Homo sapiens: one gene and its partner. The protein of the gene in region 2 interacts with the protein of the main gene of each other region in a pairwise test. Each region holds a gene or a part of one and is shown on either strand. Other genes may lie near its edges. The genes, in order: C3orf52 and SIGLECL1.

Region 1 (9,702 bases), on a different chromosome or scaffold from region 2:
ATGCTGACTCATCTTATTTCTGCTCAGCAAATGCAAAAACCTCTCCATTAAAAAAGCAGCCAAGAGGAAAGTAGCAAGAAGCGTCTCACTCAGCAACTTGCCCCAGGAAGCAGGTGGAAGGAAAGGAGAAAAGGAGGTGAAGATAAGACATAAATGAAGAGACTTCAAGGACTTGATGGAAAAGGTGGTGGGGGTGAGGGATAAAAGACTACAAATTGGGCACAGTGTACACTGCTCGGGTAATGGGTGCACCAAAATCTCAGAAATCACCACCAAAGAACTTATTCATGTAACCAAATACCACCTGGTCCCCCAAAACCTACGGAAATAAAAAATAAAAATAAATAAATAAATTTAAACAATCTAAAAAAAATTTAAAGATATAAATGAAGAGAAGGAGAAAGAGAAATCTGGAGTAATCATCACAGGATACCAACTCCTGTGATAAAAGAAGCAATGAAATCTCATGCGTGGGTACCCAGAAACTGATTCTGATGTGACCTGGATGGAATCGCCTCTTCAGGAGCTTTTGTAGGAATCAAATCGAATGGAAGTTAGATAAACAGCACTCACTCCATTCAACCTAGCAATGGCAGAGAAGAATTTAATGGAGGGCAGCCTGCTCTTGCCTAGATTTTCTTATCAAAATTTCTGGGTCTGGCTGTGAACCACCTTGTCTTTGACAGGATGATCAGGATGCCCCACCCAACGGTCCTAGTCTGGCTGCAGAGCTTCCATCTTCCACAGAGGGTTCATTCTCCTGGGTTTCTCATCCCATGACTGACACCGCCATCCATCTGCCCAATCACTCAACTGGAGCTTGGAGTCATGCTCTCCTCACCACCACCCAATCAGTCATGGACTCTTATTGAGTGAGAATACCTCTTAAATCTCACGCAAATCTTCCTTATTTTCCCGACACTGCCCTAGTTCAAGTCTCCCTCATTTCTCACCTGGACTATTGTAACACCTTCTAACTGATCTCTTCCTCCTGGCTTTCTCCACCAAAACACAGAAAGGCTAAAAGGAAAAATCTAACTGTGTCAATCTGCTGATTAAAATATTTTGGTGCCTTATTGAAGAGTGGGAAAGCCTTCATGACCTGACGCCTGCCTTCCTTTTTAGCCTTATCTCTGCCAGCTGTCACCACAAAGCATGGGAAGGCCACAGTACACTACTTTGCAGATCCTTTAATGTCCCATGCTTTTTTATTTAGAACATTCCTACCTCATTTCAAAACTCATCCTGAGCATCACTTCACTTAACAGGCCTTTCATGCCTTCATCTTCACCTGAGGTAGCTCAGATGCCCCTCCTTTGCCACTGTACAACACACTAGAACATACCACACTATTATAAAACGATCTTTTTAGTCACTTCCTGTACTTGGACTGTGAGACCCCTGAAGGCACAGACAATGTGGCCCTGGCACTTGGCATGCTGTCTAGCACATCACAGACCCTCAATGAATACTATAGGTTGAATTAAATGTAGGACCTAAGGGAGTAAAAAGAACAGTGTCCTCCAGCATTTATGCAGCTGGAGGCCAGGAATCTTCCCTCTGGCTTTGCACTACAGTAAAGATATTTACTTATTTTTTTAACAAAGTTTTATTTTAGGCTCAGGAGAATACATGTGCATGTTTCTTCTATAGGTAAACTCGTGTCATGGCGGTTTGTTGTACAGATTATTTTGTCACCCAGGTACTAAGCCTAGTACCCAATAGTTACTTTTTTTCCTGCTCCTCTCCCTCTTCCCACCCTCCGCCCTTAAGTAGGCCCCAGTGTCTGTTCCTCTCTTCGTGTCCATGTGTTCTCATCATTTAGCTCCCACTTGTAAGTGAGAACATGTGGTATTTGGTCATAAAATATATTTATAAGCATCATTTTCTGCTAAAATCCAGACAAAGAATCCAAAATTGAAGCTACTTACTCTATAGCTCTATGCCAATTATTCTAGCAAAATTCATATTCTAATGTCAAGAACTCCTTAGGCAATATATAAGATGGAATTACCCTTTCGGTGAGCAGGTGAGGCAATTCCTCTTCAGCAACACACTCCTCTGGAATCTTCAGCATGATGAAGAATGTTTTGTTTGATGATAATTCAAGTATTTCATTTTCATCTTCATCAACATAAGTTACTAAAGAAAGTAGGGGAGGTGGAAATGAAAAACAAAAGTAAACACCTGCATATAATAATAAACTTATTTATTCCATTGACTGCCATACTTAAACATAACTATGAGCATCAAGGGTAAAGGCTGAACACAGCAAGCAAGTGTAAGCAGAAATGCTTTCTCCACTCAGCAAAATTGAGTAAAATACAGGGGTTTGCCTCTATCAAAATAAAAAGTTTGTTTTATGGCAAAGGGGTCTCAGATTCCACTGAATACAGACTGGGGAAAGGGCCCAAGGGAGTAGGAAGAATATGAACTTCCTTATTAGACTAAACCTGCAGCTTAGCTAGGTACACAGGTGTCAAGGCAGGTACTGGGAGACGGTGGGGGTGGCTAAACTACACTCAGAGCCCCAGGGTGTGCAGGAATTGTTCAGGTCAATGAATTAGCATGTATTAGGGTCAAGGTATATTTATAGACTCAGATTCCGAAATCATTTACATTTTATAAATGGGAAAACAGACCCAGAGGGTTGACGAGTTTGCCTAAAACAATGAGTGATGAAGGACAGGAAGTGGGAGCAAGTAACTGCATTGACTCACCTCCCAATTCTGTGCTGGCAAAGACCACCATGAAGAAGTGACATCATCGACTCAAACAACAGAGGTGACTAGAAAATGAGCATGCGAGTCCATGTCTTGAAGTCTCCCCAGGAAGACAGAGGATGAGCATGAAGTCATCACTCTAGACTATGTCTCACAGGACAGGTATGTTGACATGCTCTGCTTGCAGAAGGGAAGCTAAACTATATTCAGAGCCCCAGGGTGTGCAGGAATTACATTCCTGGGACAATTAGTTATGTATTGCTGCTTGTGTTTAATGACTGCCATCTAATTGATTTTTAAGTAGTTGGAACTAAAGGAAAATCACACAAAGTGAGGAGCCAGGCGCCAGAAGCTAGCACTACTGTGCTAATTATGCTCCCCTGGCTCCACAACAGCCTCACCAGCTGGTCCCACACAGGAGACTACCTCTCTGGCCCTGAGAAAGGCGTAGGTGGGAGGAACCAGGTGCTTATATTGCCATAGACTTTAAGACCATAGTGGAATAAATTCAGTGTTTGAGATGGAAGGACAGGTAAAAAGGAGGAAGATTCCTGGTATTCCGGTTACTTATTCTGTGATGACATCTGGAAATACGAGGCATTACGAGCAAGGAATGTGCAGAAAAGAGTTAATATAGCAGGCCTGAGATTGCTAGCATAAGAAAGGCCTCCTCAAAATTGGTCCTGGCTGGTGTCTGAGAACCTGGATTTTCCCCTGATGAGAGGGGCTCACTGTGCCTCAACTGTTTGTACAATGTGGCTAACATCTCCTTTCCTTCTGGGAGTCTGGATTTTTAGTGCATAGTAGGCAGAGGCTACGTATATGACCAAGCCCCAGTGAAAACCCCGGGTACTGAATCTCCAATAAGCTTCCCTAGTAGATGAGATCTCACATGTGTTGTCACAGCCTATCGCTGGAGGAATTAAACAAGTCTGGTGCAACTCCACTGAGAGAGGACACTTGAAAGCTTGCTCCTGGTTTTCTCTGGATTTTGCTGTAATTAATCATTTGATGTAATGTATCCTTTTGCTGTAATAGATCATAGTGATCAGTAGGACTGCATGCTGAGTCCTGTGTATCCTCCTAGCAAATTGTTGAATCTAGGAGTAATCTTGGGGACCCCCAAACGTAGGGAATTATCCCTGCGTCCTTAATTGTTATAAGTCATGACATTATGTTGTATGATTTAAAAAAAAAGTTACGCCTTCATAGCAAAAAATTTTGCAAAGTGCAGGAAATTGTAACAAAGCAAAGAAAAAAATACGAATAATCTTGCAATCAAGAGGGTTTTTTCCTCCTATACTTGATATTATATATTTAAGGTCCTAACAAATAGGTAATTTATATCCTGCTTTTTGTTGTTTGCTGCCATTATTGCTTACTTATCCTGATTGTTCTGTTGTAAACATATCAAAAGCCATTTCCCATGTGCTTAAAATTCCTTGCAAAGATTATTTCAATGGCTTCATAATGTTCATAATAGGCTCACCTATTTTCTTAAATATGACATTTATCATTTTTAGCTTTCTACTTCTATAAATAATATTTCAATGGGTATCTTTGAGCTCTATACCCACCATGTAGATTTCCATAATAGATATCAATGCCTCAGAAAACAATAGGGGATGCCAAGAGGATAGATACAAGGTTCAAATAACTGCTAAACTCAAGGACACTGAGAAGAGATGCCAAGTGTGAAAACAGGCCTCCCATAATAGCTCTGACACATATTTAATGTGTATCATTCAAATCATGAATCTGTACCAAGACCTATCTAAATAGTTGTGTGTGTCAAAATAATAACAATAGTAACAACGACAGGCTTACTCAGTCAGGAGAGTTTTTATGTCACTAATGAGATAATCTGGGCTATACTTATTCGTGTAGAAAAAACATATTTTTAAAAATCACAAAAACATGTGTTGTATGTTGAAGGAACATGAAAACAGTTCTTTGGCTAGAATATAAGAAATTAAGCTAGAGAGAGAGCCCTTAAACGCCAGATACCTTCAAGGGGTAATGGAGTGTTGTTAAACATCGCCCACGAAGAAAGTAGAGGCTGGTGTTTAATGGAGGTTAATCGGGTGGTCATGGATGGGATAAATGAAACGAGGAGAGATGAGGCAGAGAGGCCAACAGGCACAAGTTTGGAACAGACTGATTTGACTGACAGCAGAAGGAACAAAAAGAAAAAATTAATGAGAAAGCCCAGGATAGTAGAAACAGAGCTGGCTTTAAAGGCAGCCAGACTCAGTCTGAACTCCTGTTGGCTATTTGTTAGCCAGGTGACCTTGAGCAAGTCACTTAAATCTCTGAAGCTACTTCTCCAACAGAAATATCAACACCTACAATGTAGGTGATAGTAAAGATGAAAACCAACATGCATAAAGTATCCTGCATGGTGCCTTGTAGTAAGTGGGAAAGTTGCTATCAAGACACTACCAAGGAATAACTGGTAAGATTTGGCCATTATCTAGATATGAGAAAGAAGAAATCAAAAAGGTTTCCAAGATATCAAGCCCAGGAACAGGAAGAATAATAGCTACTGTATTAAGTATGACGTGCAAACATTCTACTATGCACCTTATGAATATATTTTCCTCACATAATCCTCACATTAACCCAATGAGTTAAATATTGTTGTTTTCATTTTTAAATGAAGACACTGAGGCTTAGAGAAAATGCATAATTTGTTCAGGTCAATGAATTAGCATGTATTAGGGTCAAGGTATATTTATAGACTCAGATTCCGAAATCCTTTACATTTTATAAATGGGAAAACAGGCCCAGAGGCTTGACAAGTTTGCCTAAAGTTACACAATTGGATAGTAGCAGAACTAAAATAAACTTGGTCTTATATAAAGGGTGAGTGAATGGGGAAAAGATGAACAAATTGGGATGAAGGATATGTTATGGTCTGAATGTTTGTGTCTCCCCGAAAAATGCATATGTTGAAATCTAACCACCAATGTGAGCGTGTATTAGTCCATTCTCACACTGCTATAAAGAACTACCTGAGACTGGGCAATTTATGAAGAAAAGAGGTTTAATTGTCTTACAGTTCTGCGGGCTTAACAGGAAGCAAGGATGGGAGCCCTCAGGAAACTTACAATTATAGCAGAAGGCTCAGGGGAAACAAGCATGTCTTACCATGGGGGAGCAGGAGAGAGAGAGAAAGAGCAAACAACAAAGAGCCACACACTTTTAAACCATCAGATCTCATGAGAATTCACACACTATCATGAGAATAGCAAAGGGGAAATCTACCCCCATGATCCAATCACCTCCCACCAGGCCCCTCTTATCATTCAACATGAGATTTGGGCAGGGACACAAATCCAAACAATATCAGATGGTCTTAGAGGGTGGGGCCTTTGGGAGGTGATTAGATCATGAGGGGAGAGCACTTTTGAATGGTATTAGTGCCCTTATAAAAGAGGCCCAGAAAGCTGCCTTTCCCCTTATACCATAGAAGATATAGCTAGAAGGCATGATCTACGAAATAAAAAGTGTGCCCTCACCAGACAGCAAATGTGTGCTGACACTTTGATCTTGGAGTTCCCAGCCTCCAGAACTGTAAGCAATAAATTTCTGTTATGTATAAGCTACCTAGTTTATGATATTCTGTTATAGTAGCCCAAGCAGACTAAAATAGCATACAAACAAATGGTAGTTTCACATGTATAATAATTGAGATGATGACAGTTATTTTTAGATAAATATCTCTAGCCAAGAGTACTTCCAAAACTCAGGAAAATTGTACAGATGTAGATCTAGGAGTCACCTTCTTGGAGGCATGGCTGCTGTCCTGGGAGTGAATGAGCTCTCCAAGAAAAAGAATGAAGAATGTGAAAAGTCACGAAGCTGAAGAGAAGCCTCATGAACCCACAATGCAGATGCCAAGAGCAAAAATAGCAAAATCAACCTAAAGTCCAGGAGTTCTATAGACTCAGAAGAGTATAATGAAGTTGGCAGAGCTAAAAGCTGACAATAAGGCAGGAGACAGAGAAATGTTGGCTTCCACGATCAGACAATTGCTAGTAATCTTGGGAAGAAAAATTGGGAACCAATAGATACAAGAGGTTTGGGAGTCTGCAGGAGGCAAGATTCAAATGCAGACCTTTCTTTCTGGAAGTGTGCCAGTGAAAGAAGGGAGAGAAAAACACATATCTAAATGAAGTAGCAAGAATCCTGATGGAAGATTGCTTTGAAGGAGAGAGGATGCTAGTGCATTTGAAGAGTTAACCCATTTATACCTGAGGTTGAACTTTTCGAATTTTTGCATTCAGACTTTGGTGATGACCTTGAGCAGTAAGATATAAATAACTTCTACATGATTAGCATTCCAATAATGGAACACTAGGCATAAATTAAGAAGAACCTGAGGATGCTTAGAGAGAGGAGGAGATATCTGAAGATCTCTGGGTCAGAGGAAGCTGAAAGATATTATATGGAGACCACAGGTAAGGGTGTCCATCTTGGTAGAGAAACATCAGCGATTTGAAGAAAAGATAAACAGGTGAAAATGGAAAGAAATTTCAAGGTACTGGGTCTAGCACTGCTCTCATGTTCCTGCCCCAAAGGACCTTGGCAGCTTATAGCTTGTTAATGCTGTCTGCCTAGGATTTTCCCATGAGTCACCCTACACCAGGGAGCATTACCCTGTGAAAACTGTCAGTCTGCCAGAACCACATGACATCATAAAATGTAGCTCTTATTCACAACTGAAAGGCAAACAAATCCACTCAACACAACGTCACTTAGGAAGTCGTTGCTTATATCTCAGTACCACAGCGTTCCTACTCATAAAAGGTGTATAAATTAAGAGATTAGGGTCAGGCAAGAATCTGGGGTATAATGTTGGGGGATATCACATGAGGGTCTCCAGGATGTTATCAATTTAAATCATGTTTCTAAGCATCCACCTACTTGTCACAGTTTTGTTTTTGAAATATTTAAAATATTTTGCCCCAACCAAAACTTCATTAGTAAAGTGTTATTCAGGGTCTCACCTCTCCATGACTAGGGTGAATTATTGAAGAAAGGAGAACCCTTGAGAACACTCAACTGATCCTCCAAATTATCCAGAAAGAAAATGACTTTGAGAAAAAGATGAAGGCTTTTGTTTCTGTACCTTTCAAATCAAGAAATTTATAATTCCTTATGAGGAAGGAAAGAATCCATTAATACCTTTTCCCTAAAGAGTCTCAAATAACAGAATTCCCTGGGTTCCACTCATAAAAATGGACATTAAAAAAATTTCCATGTCGATTGTGAGTCTGGTGGACAGGTAGCCTCTTTTCCCTAGCACATACAAAGCCCCTACTCAGTGCTTTAAGCTAAGCCATGATCCTGAATTTGTCATTCTTCAATGGCATACAAGGGAAGAGTAGTGGGCAAGCCCAACCCATGTACAGGCAATGAAGGCTGCACAGTCTGTAGAGAATGAGCAGCAATAATAAAACCTACTACAAGTTGGTCTGCTTTTATTATCACCACATGCTGACAATTCTTAATTCGAGTGAAAAAATATAACTCCCCACTGGACACCCTGCCCTGGGTACCCAGGTGTCCCCTCCCCAACTTTCTGTTCTGAGATGCTTTCACTGTCCCATTTTATGTCCACCCCAACTGCACAGTTTTGAAGGCTAAAGAAATTCCGTCTTAGTTATTATTTCACTGTATTAACTTCTGATTAATCCCAGCTCTGGAAATGCCTCTAAGATTTCTATTTCATCTACTGTTGCATGTATAAGAGCACATACTTACCATAAATCTCACCCTCAGGTCTAAACAACCTTAACGTTATCTACATGCCATAAATCTTGCCCTTATGCAATTATAAAACACATCCCTTCTGAAGCATGCATACCCTTTTTCTGTGGTATTTAAGCCCTGGGCCTTTGGGGTAATGGTGCAGGAATGCACCATCTCCTCTCACTGCTGCCCAACGCATGGCTTCTGTTCCTAAAACCCTGTTAAATGTTTCTTTCTGAGTAACTGGATTTGTCAGTTTTTCTTTAGCCTCTCAGCTTCCTCAGCCTTTCTGGGTAGTTTTGCAAAGACCTGCCTACTGAAGAACAAAAGTTAACACTTCCGCCTCCAAGCTTCAGTCTGAAGACTACAGAGCCTTGAGACAGGAGATTAAGGGGTCTAGAGAAGGGTAAGCAGGCAATGAATGGCAAATATAGTTCCTGAGGAACCTTAGTCACCCAGTAAATCCAGACAGCCACAGGCACAGCCCTTGACTCTCCCAACAGTGTTTTTATCCCCAGACAACATTTCCCATGCAGTACTTGAAAGTTCCACAAATATCTGATTCATATTAATGGGCTTGGCAATTAGGAAGTGGCTGATTATTGAAGATCATCCCCAAAAAATGCCTACGGAACTGCTCTAGGTGAGGCTGGGACTGTCACAGAAGGGAGCCCCTGCCCCACCCCTTTTAACCTACTGTATCTCCCCCCACCCCCACGTCTAACATGACTCTCCCCACAGGATCAAATACCTAAGAGCTGAGATGCCAAGTAAAATACAAGTATTTCCTTGATTTAAAAAGTAGTTTGAAAAAATCTCTCTTACAGCATTGACATGTTCGAACACAAATTTACAGTTAAATTAAAAATAAAGTTTGCACTACAAGTGTTAAAAAAATTCTTCCCTGAATATTATCCCATAACCTTTTACATCTCCAGAAAAACTGTGGAAGGAAGTGAAATACCTTCCTCTTGCAGACTGCTCTTTGTGAGGTGAAGAGGTTAGATGACTTTTTGAGAATGGAAGACAGATCCTGGGTCTTGCGCTTTAGAATCCTGAATATTAAACCATCTAGATCTCTTGAATCATCCTTTATGATAGGCCCCAGATGCCAACAGGATCCAAATATCAACTTCTAGGATAGCACCAACTAGTTATGTCAGGACAAGATTGTGCTACTCAACCTCATTTTCAACATCCATGTGTTGGAATTGATATGAAT
Region 2 (9,835 bases):
GAGCGAGTCCAAAGTAAGAGTAGGCAAAGAAGTTTATTACAAAGCGAAAGTACACCCTGAGAGGCAGAGGGAGGGAGAGACAGCCTCTAGCATCTCAAGGTAATTCCTTTCATGGGAACTATACATACATATTCATAAAATATTGGTGAGTCCAGCATGAAAGGCATGCACTCAGAATCTATGTGCTCTAACACGCATTGCATGTATCATTAGCATATAAAATCTCCACCTAGGGGTGTATTTTCTACTATTCAAATGAGGAAAAGGTCACTATAAGCTAAACTTTGAACATAGCTGCACACGCAGAGCCCTGGAGAAGTTCCCAGCTCCCCCAAGGCAGGAATTTGTAGCTCACAGCTTCTTGGGTTTTTGGTGTTGATTGGCTGGAGACTGGGGAAACTACACCATGAATAAGTGGCTTTTGTTCTCTTTCCCAGGCCACATTAACAGGAACTTGCAACCATCTGGTGGTCTGCTTGTATCCTGTAGGACTGTTTATCTTGCAAGAGTTAGGTGCTGACTCACGAGAGTGAAAACCAAAGAATCTGCTTCGAAAGGGATCCATGGGGCTTTGCGCAAGGATACAAGTGAGTATGGCCTCCTAACCTTACTTATCCTGCCTCACAACCTCAACGATATTCATATTCTGGCATTTGGGGCTGGATAATTCTTTGGTGGTGGTGGTTAGGGGAGGGTGTGGCAGGTCAGGTCTCCCTAACCGCTGAACAGGCAGGCCTCCATAACAACTGTCTCAGCACTGATTGAGTGGTTAAGTTAAATATTAAAAGCTGACAGAGCCAGTGCCCTCATACAAAGGCTGGAATGTAACAAAAGCCCACCAAGAATTTTGCCCAGGCCTTTTCTGGGCCTTGAGCATAACAAGATAATGAAGGAATTCTTAACAGGACCCGTTTAGGATTAAACAAGTTTTATTGGGGGGTCTGAAGAAACTCCTCTAAGCCTCCACAAACAAGTTTATTGGGGGTCTGAAGGAACTCCCCAAACCTCCATGATTTAGCAGGAGACAAGATAAGGGTAATCACCCCAGCACCTGGACCCATTTAGTTTAAATAAATTTACTGAGGCTACAGAGGAAGATCTTCAGGACTGACATCTTAGTTACAGATTGGAAGAAGTTAATCGCTTACGTCCAGATGAATGCACTCTTACATGTAGACAAATAGCTTAGAAGGTATATGAGCTCTGGAAAACTTTGTAATTTTGAGTTGGTCTGGCAATATTTTCCAGATCTTCTCCCTGTGCCCAGTTACAGAAATAAACTCCCTTCTCTCCCAGTTCACCTGCATCTTGTCATTGGGCTAAGAGAATAAGCAGCCTGACCCTTGGTTTGGTCCAGGAACAAGGGTGCATGGTCAGATGTTGAGCAGCGTCTCTAGGTTGTACACACAAGATGTCAGTAGCTCCCCTAGTCCAGTTTTGACAACCAAAAAAGGACTCCAGATATTGTCAGGTGTCTATCAGGGTGCAAAAAAGCACCAAATTGAGAAACACTGAACTAGAGCCTTCCTCCTCTGTATTCACATAGATACTTGAACAAAATGAACTTTCTCTAGTTCTTCAAGTTCACTACGAAAACCACTATGTTGCCCAATTTCTTTTTTTTTTTGAGACAGAGTCTGGATCCATCACTCAGGCTGGAGTGCACTGGTGTGATCTTGGCTCACTGCAACCTCCACCTCCTGGGTTCAAGCAATTCTCCTGTCTCAGCCTCCCAAGTAGCTGGGACTACAGGTGCCTGCCACCACGTCCAGCTAATTTTTGTATTTTTAGTAGAGACGGGGTTTCACCTTGTTAATCAGGCGGTCTCGAACTCCTGACCTCAGGTGATCCACCCGCCTCAGCCTCCCAAAGTGTTGGGATTACAGGCGTGAGCCACCGTGTCCGGCCGTTGCCCAATTTCAAAACAATTTAGTGCATTTGAAGAAGTTTATCGCAAAGCAAAAGTACACCCTGAGAGGCAGACGGAGGGAGAGATAGCCCCTAGTGTCTCAAGGGTCTCAAGACCCCCAGTAAAACTTGTTTAATCCTGAACGGGTCCTGTTAAGAATTCCTTTGTTATCACATTTATGAAGACGGTCTTGAGAAATCCTGAGGTTCTAATTTCTTTGTTTTCCAAACTTTTCCTGCATGCCTACTACATGCTACACCAATACAGGAGTTAAGAAGGAATTACTTAGGCCCAGAGCAAGGGCATGGGAGTCCTTGGTAAGGCTTTTCTTTTTAATGAAAAGCAGCCCCAAATCAGTTTCTAACAAAGAGCAGCCTGCAACCTGGGAGCTTGCATGAGTGAATGACGGCAGGAACTAAGGAATGGACATTTTCAAGATGGCCGCTCCATCTTCCCTTCTCTGTCACGTGCTGTAAGGAGCAGACAAGGTGGCACTGATCAACTGGAAAGTCCATTTGCATAAGAAGATTAGGGTGGGGTTACCAGCCTTCCTTGTGTGCTATTTAAACATTATACCCGATCAAACCAATCTATGAGCCTTATGTGAATCAGACACCACCTCCTCAAATGGGACTATAAAATTTGCAGCATTCACCACCAGATGGTCTTTTTTTCCGTTCCAAGACCCCTTCCTCTTTAGAGGAAGCAGTTTCTCTTTCTCTTCTCTTCTACCCATTAAACCTCCACTCCTAAAATCCTCGTGTGTTTCTGTGTCCTAAATTGTCCTGGCATGTGCCAGCGGAACCCCATGTTTATACCCCAAGTAACCTAGCTGCTTCAGCTCCTCCAAGAACATCAAAAGGAAGAAGATACAGTCCCTGGCTCATATGAAAATATAAACTTAGACACATTAAAATTTTAAAGAATTTATTTGAGCTGACATTCATGAATCCAGAAGTGCCAAACCACCTAGTGGGCACACAAGGAAAACTTTTATAAGGTATTCCTGGAATCAAAACAAAGAAAATAGTTTCATTTGGTTAAAGGGGAACGGTAGCCTTAAAGTTTGTAATTAGAGGTCAACTTGCAGTTTCTGATTGGTAAAGTCTCTACTTAGAGGTTAGTAGGCAGTTTCGATTGGTTAAGCCTAAGTTTCATTTTTCTAGGATATGACCATTCACTTTGAGTTAGGTTTGAATTTGCTTACTTGGAAACAAAGGCCTTGGAGCCATCTCAGCCTAATGGCTTCCCAGTTAGTTATTTTGACAATTGGGAGAGCTCAAGTTCATGGGGTAATGTTTGGGAAAGGGACAGAAATAGGTAACTTACTGAAACACAGTATGATAAGGTTCCTATAAAGATGGCAAAGGATATAAATTATGGGGATAATTATGGCCTAGGGTCTGGGGACCCAAGGGCAAGAGCTTTCAGGGATGGGAAAGAAGTTAGAAAAGGCTTCTCAGAGGAAGCCCCTTTCTAACTGCACCTTGAAGGGAAAGCAAGAGCCAGCAAGCAGAGAAGCGAGGAAAAGCAGTTTAGGTACTGATAATATCAATTACAAAGCAAGGAGGTAGAAGAGGGGCTGGCAGATGTTTAGGTAATAGCAGTCAGTCTGCTACAGCTAGGGTAAAGGGAACAAAGTCAGGTCCCCTCTCGGGAAGTCTATCTGGGGCCTGCTCTGCAAGCTGTAAGGGCCATGGAGTAAGGCCCTGGAGGGTGAACATCATCCTTCAGTCTGTCACATTAAAAAAAAAAAATCTGCACATAAATAAGGCAAGATTTTATCCAAAACAATTATTCCAATAAAGGGAGAAGAATCTTTGCAGCAGTGGAAGGGGAACTGCTGCAACAGGGAGGTGGAGACTGTTGTAATAGGGAGTGGAGGTCTCCCATGTACCATAAAACAAAACCAAAAAGTGAGCTTCTATTCTAGTGGCACAGTCAAACCATAAACAAAAATACCATTAGCAAATGATATTTAGCACAAAGTGTTTTTGTTACAGGAAAGGGGTTCTGATCCAGACCCCAAGAGAGGATTCTTGTATCTCTTGCAAGAAAGAATTCAGGGCTATTCCATAGAGTAACGTGGAAGCAAGTTTATTAAGAAAGTAAAAGAATAAAAGAATGATTACTTCATAGAGCAGCCCCGAGGGCTGCTGGTTGCCCATTTTTATGGTTATTTCTTGATGACATGCTAAAGAAAGGGTGAATTATTCATGCCTCCCCTTTTTAGACCATATAGTGTAACTTCCTGACGTTGCCATGGCATTTGTGAACCGTCATGGTGCTGGTAGGAGTGTAGCAGTGAGGATTACCAGAGGTCACTCTCATTGTCATCTTGGTTTTGGTGGGATTTGGCTGGCTTCTTTTTTTTTTTTTTCCTTTTGAGTCAGAGTCTCACTCTGTTGCCCAGGCTGGAGTGCAGTGGTGCAATCTCGGCTCACTGCAACTTCCACCTCGCGGATTCAAGCGATTCTCCTGCCTCAACCTCCCAAGTAGCTGGGGTTACAGGTGCCTGCCACCACGCCCAGCTAATTTTTGTATTTTTAGTAGACAGGGTTTCGCCATGTTGGCAGGCTGGTCTCAAACTCCTGACCTCAGGTAATCCGCCCGCCTCAGCCTCCCAAAGTGCTGGGATTACAGGCGTGAGTCACCGAGCCCAGCCTTGGCTGGTTTCTTTACTGCAACCTGTTTTATCAGCAAGGTCTTTATGACCTGTATCTTGTGCTGACCGCCTATATCATCCTGTAACTTAGAATGCCTTAGCCCTCTGGGAATGCAGCCCAGCAGGTCTCAGCCTCATTTTACCCAGCTCCTATTCAAGACGGAGTTGCTCTGGCTCAAATGCCTCTGTCATTTTGAAAGTGTAATGGGTAAGAAAGTGCGTGACGGATAAAGTGTGAGAAAAAATAAACAGGGTTAAACAAGAGGAACGGAGTCCTCAGGGTTGGAGAGGAGTGTGGTTTCATCAGCACGGGCTGGAAAGGCCTTGCTGGGAAGAAAATTGGCCCACAAACTACCCTGGCACCGCCCCCAGCTGCGGATTGGCTCAAGCCCTCAAGATCCAATTGGGCACAAAGGTTGGAGGAGGGAGTTGCAGTTGCAGTTCCTGATTGACTCTGGCAGCCGTGCATCAGCTCCCAGGGGCACACGCCTGTGGGCACAATGCTTCTGCTTCATTGATTGGCTGTAGAAAAAGCTCATGCAGCCTCTGATTGGCTATAAAATAAGCCCATGCAGCCTCTGATTGGCTGCAACATAAGCCCATGCAGCCTCTCATTGGTTGTAAAATAAGCACATGCAGCCTCTGATTGGCTGTGTAAAGTAAGCCCATGCAGCCGCTGATTGGCTGCGGGTGGATGCACTCACCTAAGGATGCGAGCTAGCAGGTCTTGCAGCGGCTATCACGCCCCTCACGCCGCTATCTCTGTGCAGCCGACTGAGGATCCCTAGTCGCATAAGGCTGTGCCTGGCCTGTTGGCGTCCCTGGCAGTTGTTGGGTTCTGGCGGTTGTTGGGTCCCTGGCAGTTGTTGGCGGTTGTTGGGTTCCTTCATTGAAACTGCACTAACTGGGCTTCCAGTCAGCGTCAGTCAGCGGATCCTTGGGCCGTGGGGCAGCCGCAGGTCGGTTAGGCCACCAGGGCGGCTCTCGTGCCAGTGAGGCCCCTGAGAGCCCTTTGGTCAGACAGAGGCTAAATCTGAACAGTCAGGCGGTGAGATTAAGCATAGTCAGGGAGTTCGCCAGGAGCCAGCGTTCCTCAGCCTCCACCACGTCAGTCACCTGGTCAGCCAGAGGGCAGCTGGGGCGACATCCATCTACCAAGAAGGTAAGCAAGCGGCCCGTGGGTTCACAATCAGGTCAGTGCCCTTATGAGTCAACGGTTAGTCCCTTTGAAAATCAGTTCATGAGAAAATCCACTCCCTTCAGAACCTGCCCTGTTCATTGGTTAGTTAGGCTCCCGCTAAGTCGGTCTCTTGGTAAGTTACACCCCTGCAAGGCACCCAGTCATTACTCACACAGTTATCCCATGTGTGTCTATCAGTTTCATTGTTAGTTATCCTGGCTTTCCCTAGAAAATCGTTTTCCTCACCATAAATAGGTCAGTCATTAGTAAGTCAGCCCTTCCCTTAGAAAGCCGAACACCTTTGCATCACTCACACCCTGCTAAGGAAATACACAGATGGAAGTGTGCTGAGAACAGAGAATATCCTGAGCCCTTTGGAACAAGAGACAGAAGGAAAATTGAGAGACATGATGGTGAAGGAAAATTGAGAGACATGGTGGTCAAGGAAAATAGGCTGGGCGCAGTGGCTCACGTCTGTAATCCCAGCACTTTGGGAGGCTGAGGCCGGGGATCACTTGAGGTCAGGAGTTCAAGACCAGCCTGGCCAACATGGTGAAACCCCGTCTCTTCCAAAAATACAAAAATTAGATGGGCATCGTGGCCCGTGCCTGTAGTCCCAGCTACTCGGGAGGCTGAGGCAGGAGAATCACTTGAACCCCGTAGGCAGAGGTTGCAGTGAGCCAAGATCGTGCCACTGCACTCCAGCCTGGGCAACACAGCGAGACTCTGTCTCAAAAAAAAAAAAAGAAAAGAAAAGAAAAAGAAAATATAATGGGTGCATGACGAGTCATCACATGTATGCTCTAAAACTGATGGAGAGAAGAAAGAAGAAATCAGAATTTTGTACTTAAATGGATCATTACATCTCCAGCAGTAAAACCCACTCATGTTACACATGAGGAAATAAGAAGAGGGAAAATACTTGACCACAGTTATTCAGTGCTTTACTGGCAAATCCTGGCCCAGGACCTAGACAAGGCTCATTCCGACCATCTAACATGGGCTTTTAAACAGAAGAAAGGGGAAGGAAAAAAAAATTGACAATGCAAAAAGAAAGTGGATATGTGGCGTGAATGAGAGAGGCATTTAACGACCTGGAAACTTGGGCGATATCTTTTTTATGTGAGAAGGAAAAAGGGCAATCAGTCTGGAGGCTAAGGGTTGGGAGCACAGACCACTCAGAGAGGTCTGTTAAAACATGCCGAAATATGGAATAGGAAAGGACAGGGCTGGTTCCAGAACTCTGGGAAGGGATTAGGGGTGGTCAAGAGTGGTCCCAGGCTGAGTGTGTTGGTTCACGGCTGCAATCCCAGCACTTTGGGAGGCTGAGGTGAGAAGACTGCTTGAGCCCAGGAGTTCGAGACCAGCCTGGGTAACATAGTGAGACTCTGTCTCTACAAAAAAAATTTTTTCATTAGCTGGACCTGGTGGCTTGTGCTTATAGTCCCAGCTACTCTGGAGGCTGAGGTGGGAGGATCACTTGAGCCTGGAAAGTCGAGGCTGCAGTGAGCCATGTTCATGCCACTGCACTCCAGACCCTGTGTTAAAAAAAAACAAAAAAAAAGTGGTTCCAAGTTAAATGCTGATAGGAGCTAAGCAGGGAACCTAATACATAGTAACTAACATTTTTTGATTGCTTACCAAATGTGAGGTTCTGTTCTACTGACTCATTTAATCTTAACAACAACTCTAAGATGGGTGCTATTATTATCCATGTTTTTAAAATGAGCAAGTAGGCCTAGAGAGAGGTGAAGCTACTTGCACACTATAAAACAGCTAACCTTCATATCTAGGCAGTTTGACTTGAATTTAAAATTTAAAAAAAAGAGAGAGAGAGAAGCTGGTTGTTTGAATTTTTTGTGAAGTGCTCTGATTATTAAATGTTATCCCATTTTAAAAGTTAGTTTTAAAAAGTAAGCATTTGTAGGCCAAACAAAATTCATTTATGATTGTTTTTAGTCTCTGAAGCAGGCTGACAGTGAGGGAAGTGACTTACCCAGAATCACCCAGGAAGTAGCGACAAAGATTAGGTCTTCTGACTTCTGGTCCACTTCCAGGAAAAATCTAAGTATACTGTGTGTCACATCAGGGCTAGCTGATTTATTCTTATATTTTATTCATGAGGAAGTGAATTTGGAGAGGAGAATGAACTTCACCATGCTTATACAGCAGTTTTTAAGGCAAAATAGAATCATGAAAAAGACACCACAGTTGTAGTCAAAGGTTGAGTCTGAAATCTATGAACGTAACGGCTGCATGTCTTGGGGCCAGTCATAGTACTTTTGTGGATCTCTGCCTTCCTTTTGGAAGTGTTGATAATGAGATGTACCTCACAGAGTTGTTGAGACTAAGATAAAAGATAAAATTTCTACGTCTCTAGAGTTGTAAATGGCAACCATAGTTTCTCATTAGATGTTAACCAAAAAAGTAGTTAACAGTCATGGCATGATTCAGTCATTCCCAATTGATTCACAGCAGGGCACAGTGGCTCATGCCTGTAATCCTAGCACTTTGGGAGGCTGAGGCGGGAGAATTGCTTAAGCCCAGGAGTTCAAAACCAGCCTGGGCAATATAGCAAGACTCGACTCTCTCTCTACAGAAAATATTTTTTTTAAATGAATTGGGTCTAGTAGTGTGCCCTTAAAGTCCCAGCTACTCGAGAGACTGATGTGGGAGGACTACTTGAGCTCAGGAGTTCGAGGCTGTAGATAGCTGTGATTGTACCACTGCACACCAGCCAGGGTGACAGGGTGAGACTCCATCTCTTTAAAAAAAAAAAAAAAAGGATTGATTCACAGTATCCAAATAGTAGAAACAACCCAAATGCCATCAACTGATGAATGGATAAACAAAATGTGGTCTATCCATACAATGGAATATTATTCAACGATAACAATGAAAGGAGTACTGATATCTGGTACAACATGAATTAGCCTTGAAAGCATGCTAAATGAAAGAAGCCAGACACAAAAGACCACATATTATATCATTTCATTTATATACAATGTCCAGAATAGGCAAATTTATAATTACGGAAAATAGATTAGTGGTTGCCTACAACTAGGGGGTGGAGTTGGGGTTTGGGGAAACGGGGAGTAAATGTTAATAGATATTGGTGTTTTTAGGGAGGTGATGAAAGTGCTCTGGAATTAGGTAATGGTGATGTCTGCATATCTTTATGAATATACTAAAACTCCTAAATTGTGTGCACTTTAAAATGGTGAATTTATGGTATATGAATTATAGCTCAATAAAAATAAAAAAATTAATTATAAAAAGGTTAGCTACCAGTAGACCCATGGCTAAATAAAAACCTGAAAATTTTAGGGAAAACTAGATACTCACATGGAAATTGGACACTTAGTTTATACCAAATACAAAAATAAACTCAAAATGGGTTAAAGACTTAAATATAGCCAGGCGCAGTGGCTCACGCCTGTAATCCCAGCACTTTGGGAGGCCAGGGAGGGTGGATCACTTGATGCCAGGAGTTTGAGACCAGTCTGGCCAACATGGTGAAACCCTGTCTCTACTAAAAATACAAAAGTTAGCCAGGCATGGTGGAGCACGCCTGTAATCCCAGCTACTCAGGAGGCTGAGGCACAAGAATCGCTTGCACCCAGGAGATGGAGGTTGCAGTGAGCCAAGATCATGCCACTGCACTCCAGCCTGGGCAACAGAGTGGGGACCCTGTCTCAAGAAAAAAAAAAAAAAAGACTTAAATATAAGAACTGAGATTGTAAAACTACTAAAAGAAAACATCGGAGAAAACTTCTGTATATTTATATGTAATACACAATAAAAATTATTGGTTTGGGAAATAGTTATTTGGATATTTCTGCAAAAACACAGGAAACAAAAGCAAAAATTGACATGCAAGATTGCAGCAAAGTAGTTTCTGAACAGCAAAGGAAACAATCAACAGAGTGAAGAGACAACCTACAGAATGGGAGAAAATATTTGCAAAGCATCCATCTAATAAGGGGCTAATATCCAAAATACATAAGGAACTCAAACAACTCAATAGCAAAAAAATCAAATAACCCAATTAAAAAATGGGCAAGGACCTGAATAGGCATTT

Evidence for each region.
Region 1: the proteins of SIGLECL1 (region 2) and C3orf52 interact in binary tests that used the Homo sapiens proteins (3 or more experiments, as listed by UniProt).

What each region holds. Positions count from the first base shown.
Region 1 is NC_000003.12:112,095,278-112,104,979, reverse strand, and holds part of C3orf52 (TPA-induced transmembrane protein), read right to left. Parts: intron 2,143-9,702; coding exon 2,015-2,142; intron 1-2,014. UniProt on the Homo sapiens protein: Has a role in LIPH-mediated synthesis of 2-acyl lysophosphatidic acid (LPA). LPA is a bioactive lipid mediator involved in different biological processes, and necessary to promote hair formation and growth.
Region 2 is NC_000019.10:51,245,810-51,255,644, forward strand, and holds the start of SIGLECL1 (SIGLEC family-like protein 1), read left to right. Parts: upstream 1-5,270; 5' UTR 5,271-5,736; intron 5,737-9,835.